2 separate regions of the Homo sapiens genome follow, and region 1 is linked to region 2. The links come from fine-mapping of genetic effects on gene expression. A gene starts in region 2. The other region holds a variant in brackets. All regions are shown on one strand. Distances are between the middles of the regions. Region 1 overlaps NTSR1 (neurotensin receptor 1). Region 2 holds the start of NTSR1 (neurotensin receptor 1).

Evidence for each region. PIP is the estimated chance that this variant, and not a neighbour inherited with it, causes the effect.
Region 1: its variant is fine-mapped to the expression of NTSR1 in monocytes after R848 (Quach 2016, PIP 0.95). The same link has a PIP of 0.9 or more in monocytes and monocytes after Pam3CSK4.

The regions. Positions count from the first base shown.
Region 1 is chr20:62,730,400-62,733,299 of GRCh38, forward strand. The region is part of intron 1 of NTSR1 (neurotensin receptor 1); the gene reads left to right. It overlaps NTSR1-AS1 (NTSR1 antisense RNA 1), which reads right to left. Exons shown (of 2, transcript NR_199009.1): 2 at 1-2,783. Among named protein-coding and RNA genes, the nearest start is that of NTSR1-AS1, 3.5 kb to the right of the region's middle. The variant C/CAA (reference allele first, on the strand shown) is at 1,720.
Region 2 is chr20:62,707,153-62,710,052 of GRCh38, forward strand. NTSR1 (neurotensin receptor 1) reads left to right here and starts at 1,684. Exons shown (of 4, transcript NM_002531.3): 1 at 1,684-2,769. The coding sequence starts at 2,056. RefSeq lists enhancers at 648-1,161, 1,162-1,674, 1,884-2,430, 2,431-2,900.

The sequences.
Region 1 (2,900 bases), 23 kb after region 2:
GTTTCTCCCTGTCTTTTCATGGCTTGATAGCTTGTTCTTTTTACGGCTGAATAATATTCCATTATCTGGATGTCCCCCAGCTTGTTTATTCACTCAGCTATTGATGGACATCTTGGTTTTTGGCATTTATGAAGAAGGCTGCTATAAACATACATGTGCAGGTTTCTGTGTGGCTTTCACCCCTTTGGGAGTAGAAATGCCAAGGAGGGCGATCGTTGGAACACGTGGTAAGGATACGTTGAGCTTTGTAGGAAGTTGCCAAAGTGCCTTCCAGCACGGCTGCGCCATTTTGAATTCCCAGCAGCCACGGGTGAGGGCGGTTCTGTTGCTCCGCAGCCTTGCCAGCGTTTGGTGTCGTCAGGATCTTGGTTTTGGTTTTTGTAGCCATTCTCATTTGATCTCATTGTTTTAATCGACATTTCTCTAATGACATATGATGTGGAGCATTTTTCTTGTGCTTATTTTTCCATTGCTACGTCTTCTTTGATGAGGTGTCTATTCAGATGTTTTGCCCATTTCTTCATGTTTGTTTCCTTATTGTTGAGTTGTAAAAGTTCTTTATATATTTTGGATAACACTCCTTTATCAAGTATTTTGCAAATATTTTTTCCTAGGCTGTATCTTGTCTTCTCATTCGTTTAACAGTGTCATTTTTAGAGCGTTTTTGTTTTGTTTTGTTTTTGTTTTTTCTTTTTTGTTTTTGAGACGGAGTTTCGCTCTTGTTGCCCAGGCTGGAGTGTAATGGCACAATCTCGGCTCACCACAACCTCCGCCTCCCGGGTTCAAGTGATTCTCCTGCCTCAGCCTCCCGAGTAGCTGGGATTACAGGCGTGCACCACCATGCCCAGCTAATTTTGTATTTTTAGTAGAGATGGGGTTTCTCCATGTTGGTCAGGCTGGTCTTGAACTCCTGACCTCAGGTGATCCACCCGCCTTGGCCTCCAAAAGTGCTGGGATTACAAGTGTGAGCCACCACGCCCAGCCGTGTAATTTCTTAATTTTAATGAAGTCCAGCTTATTCATTTTTTTTGTGGATTATGCTTTTGATGTTGCATCTAAAAACTCATTGCCAAACCCAAGATACCTAGATTTTATACCCAAGATACCTAGATTTTATTACCTAGAAATTTTATTATCTTGTATTTTATATTAAATAAAATGTGTTATTATCTATAAATTGTATTATCTTGCATTTTATATTAAGGTCTGTGAGGCCTTTTGAGTTAATTATCCTGAAAGGTATAAGACCCATTTTTTTCTACATGTGGATGTCAGTTGTTCCAGCACCATCTGTTGAAAGACAGTCTTTTCAACATCAATAACTTTTGCTTCTTTCTCAAAGATCATTTGCCCATGCATGTGTCCGTCCACTTCTGGGCTCTCTTTTCTGTTCCATTGGAATATTTGTCTGTTCTTTAGCCACGATTACACTTTACTGGCTGGGTGTGGTGGCTCACGCCTGTAATCCCAGCACTTTGGGAGGCCGAGGCGGGTGGATCACTTGAGGTCAGGAGTTCGAGGCCAGTCTGGCCAATATAGTGAAACCCCCATCTCTACTAAAAATACAAAAATTAGCCAGGTATGGTGGCAGGTGCCTGAAATCCCAAGTACTCAAGAGGCTGAGGCAGGAGAATCACTTGAACCCAGGAGGCAGAGGCTGCAGTGAGCCAAGATTGTGTCACCATACTCCAGCCTGGGCGACAGAGTGAGACTCCATTT[C/CAA]AAAAAAAAAAAAAAAATTACACTGTACCGATAACTGGGGCTTTATAGCAAGTGTTGAAATCGGTAGTGTCCATCCTGTGAACTCACAGTATGACGTTAAATAGGAGTGAGGATAGGGGGCCTCCCTGCCTCCTTCCCTATCTTAGGAAGAAAAGCTTCAGGTTTGTCACCATTGAGTATGACATGGGCTGTAGGTTTTTAGTAGATGTTCTCTACCAAGCTGAGGGAGTTCCCTTGTATTCCTGGCTTGTGAAAGGTTTTTCTCACAGATGGGTGTTGGGTTTTGGAAAATAGTTCCTGTTGCCATGATGGATTTCGATAATCTGTTTCCGAACCCTGGAGCAGCCTCGCATGCCTGGAATAAATCCTGTGCTGTCTAATTCTTACCATGTAGCGCTGCATGAGATTCGCTGCTATTTGTGTAATTCTTAGTATGTGGTGCTGGTTGGGAAATCCTGTGGTGTATAATTCTTAGTATGTGATGCTGGATTTGCTGCTGTTTTGTTGAGGGTTTTTGCATCTGTGTTCATGAGACATCCTGGTCTGCGTTTTCCTTTCTTGTAACATCCTCGGTTTTGTTATTGGGGTAATGCCGGCCTCGTAGAGTGAGTTATAAAGTGTTCCTCTGCTTCTATTTCCTGGAAGAGACTGTAGAGAGTATCTATCATCTGTTCCTTAAATGCAAGGTAGAATTCTAAGTCCGTGTCCCTGCGTGGCTCCAGGCACGCTGGTTCCCCATCTGACCCTCCGCTTGCTTTTCCTCGGGCTCTCCCTGCCTGGGCCTGGAGGACCACAGCGGGCACAGGGGGCGGCTCAGGCTGAGAACCAACGGCGCTGACGTCGCCTAAAGGGGGTTCCCAGCTGGCAGCCTCCAGGTGCTGGAATGTTTCTCGGTGAGAAGCCGCCACGGGAGTCTGTGGACTTGTCACATCACCCGCAGGCGTGGCCCTGAGGCCACGTATCCAAGCAGCAGTGCCGTGCATATTCATGTCGGCATTGGACTTGCAAATTCTGAGTGAAGTAAATGTCATCGGCAGTGTGTAGACGTTCTTTCGGAAGAAGATCTGTCAGAGAAAATGCAAGCTGATTACCAGCCTAACAGAGAAATGTGCATCCCGGTCCCCGCAGGGCCACCCTGGAGGCACCTCTGCACCTCCCAGGCACAGCTCTGGGAAGGCTGA
Region 2 (2,900 bases):
CCAGCAAAGGGATCACTGGCGTTTCCTTTGATGCCAAGATTTCTAAGCTCTGATGTTTGTGAGCTGCAGCCCCCTGACAAGAGTATCAGGCTCCGGTTGAACAGAGAAGTCCAAAGCAGGGCGAGAACGGACGAATAATCACAGAGTCCCGCTGCCAGCCACCGGCTCAGAAGCCTTGAATTCTCCTAGCTGGGCGGGCCCGGGAGGGGGTTCCTCAGCCTCCCGCTTCCCTCAACACCCTGCGACCCCCGCCCCAGCCTGCCCAGGTTTCCTGCTCCCAGCACAGCAGGTGCAGCCAGCCATGTGCACAAAGGCCAGGCTGGTTCCCTGGGCTGCACTCGAGCAGCTCCTCCCAGCCCTGCACACATGGGGCAGCAGCTCTACCCAACCTCTCCCAGGGGTTCTGGGGAGGAGGGAGCAGGGGAGGGGGCGGGGAGGGCCCAGAGAAGGGACAGTAGTGCCCTGGGGGCCCCTGGGCAACCCAGACATGGAGGGGGGGGCAAGCTTGTGCCTGGCCACCTATGCCAGTGCCACCAGGTGCTGGGGGGGACACGGAAAGGACAGGAATCTTGCCCTCACCTGGCTCCCGAGCCAGGGGCCGGGGCACCCTGTGAGGACACTCAGAGGGAGGGAGTGTGCAAAGCCTGCAGGGCCTGGGAGGATGCGTGCTGGGGCTGCCTCTCCCAAATCCTGCTGGGGCGCAGGCTCTCAGGGTGGCTTCTGATGACAAATCCAGGCAGTAATAAGGGGCCCAGGGCATCACATCCCATAGCGTCATGAGACCAGCCCAGGGTGCCAGATGCAGGGCCCTGAGTGGGGAGGGTGCTGCTCTGGGCACCTGCTTTCTGCCCTCCCTCATTCACCCCTCCCCAGACTTTGATGAAACCATCTGTGGCTCCCGGCCTCTGCAGGACCCAGCCCCTCAGCTCCTCAGCCCCTGCAGGTGTCCCTCGGTACTGCCTCACGCCATCCTGCCCCAGGTGATAACTATGCCCTGAGCCCCCACCATTTCCACTGGGCACATCCCAGAAATACGCATTCACAGACCAGGCACGCCCATGACTGCGGCCAGATTTTAAAAGGAATCACCAGAAATGTAATCTCCAGTGGTCCTAGAGCCCCCTGGGCACCCAGCTTCTGGCACCCTGTGGACACCCAGGAGTGGGGGTCGGCCCAACCAGCTGCGCAGCCGCCCAGCCCTGCCAGCGGGGAGCTTCCTCCCTCCCTGCCCTCCGGATACACCCTCACCCCAACTGAGCGAGCCCAGGGTTGGGGGAGGTGCATAGTTCCCTTCCTAGCCGGTGCGAGAAATTGCGGAGAACAGGGAAGAGGGTGGCAGGAAGGGTCTGGTGCACGATACCCGCCGCGCCCGCTCGGAATCCTGGTTCCCTGGAGCGCTCACCCCAGCCCGCCCTGCCCCGGGGAGCGCGAGGGGGCGACCCGCCAGGCTGCACCCGGGCGGGGCGGGGATGGCGGCGGGGGCTGCCTCCCTCCTCCGCCGCCACCCCCCACTGCTGGGCGCGCCGCGCGGCCGCCGGCTCCGTGGAGACGCGCAGAGCCGGGAGGGCGCGGGCGCGGCGGGAGGTGTGCGGGGCTGGGGTGCGCGGAGAGCGCGAGGGAGGAGATTCTGAGCGAGGGAGGGGAGCGCGCCCGGGCAGCAGTGCGTGCGCTCCTCCCGGCGCCACAAGCTCGCCCCGCGCAGCCCGAGCCGGGCTGGGCGCTGTCCTCGGGGGCCTGGGGAACCGCGCGGTTTGGAGATCGGAGGCACCTGGAACCCGTGGCAAGCGCCGAGCCGGGAGACAGCCCGAGGAACCACGGGTTCTGGAGCTAGGAGCCGGAAGCTGGGAGTCCGGAGGAGAGCGGAGCCCGGAGCCCGGAGCCCGGGGCGGCGCGTCTGGGTCTGGCGCTTCCCGACTGGACGGCGCGCCCGCTGGTCTTCGCCACGCGCCCTCCCCTGGGCTCCCGTTCATCGGTCCCCGCCTGAGACGCGCCCACTCCTGCCCGGACTTCCAGCCCCGGAGGCGCCGGACAGAGCCGCGGACTCCAGCGCCCACCATGCGCCTCAACAGCTCCGCGCCGGGAACCCCGGGCACGCCGGCCGCCGACCCCTTCCAGCGGGCGCAGGCCGGACTGGAGGAGGCGCTGCTGGCCCCGGGCTTCGGCAACGCTTCGGGCAACGCGTCGGAGCGCGTCCTGGCGGCACCCAGCAGCGAGCTGGACGTGAACACCGACATCTACTCCAAGGTGCTGGTGACCGCCGTGTACCTGGCGCTCTTCGTGGTGGGCACGGTGGGCAACACGGTGACGGCGTTCACGCTGGCGCGGAAGAAGTCGCTGCAGAGCCTGCAGAGCACGGTGCATTACCACCTGGGCAGCCTGGCGCTGTCCGACCTGCTCACCCTGCTGCTGGCCATGCCCGTGGAGCTGTACAACTTCATCTGGGTGCACCACCCCTGGGCCTTCGGCGACGCCGGCTGCCGCGGCTACTACTTCCTGCGCGACGCCTGCACCTACGCCACGGCCCTCAACGTGGCCAGCCTGAGTGTGGAGCGCTACCTGGCCATCTGCCACCCCTTCAAGGCCAAGACCCTCATGTCCCGAAGCCGCACCAAGAAGTTCATCAGCGCCATCTGGCTCGCCTCGGCCCTGCTGGCGGTGCCTATGCTGTTCACCATGGGCGAGCAGAACCGCAGCGCCGACGGCCAGCACGCCGGCGGCCTGGTGTGCACCCCCACCATCCACACTGCCACCGTCAAGGTCGTCATACAGGTGAGCCTCAGTAACCAGCCCCGGGGCTCCCCTCTCCTTCACCCCAAAAGCAGTGCCAGTGGTGTGCCTTCTGGGTAGGGAGTGGGAGAGATGTCACAGAGACAGTCTACTCCTGCGAGGCTGGGAAGGCG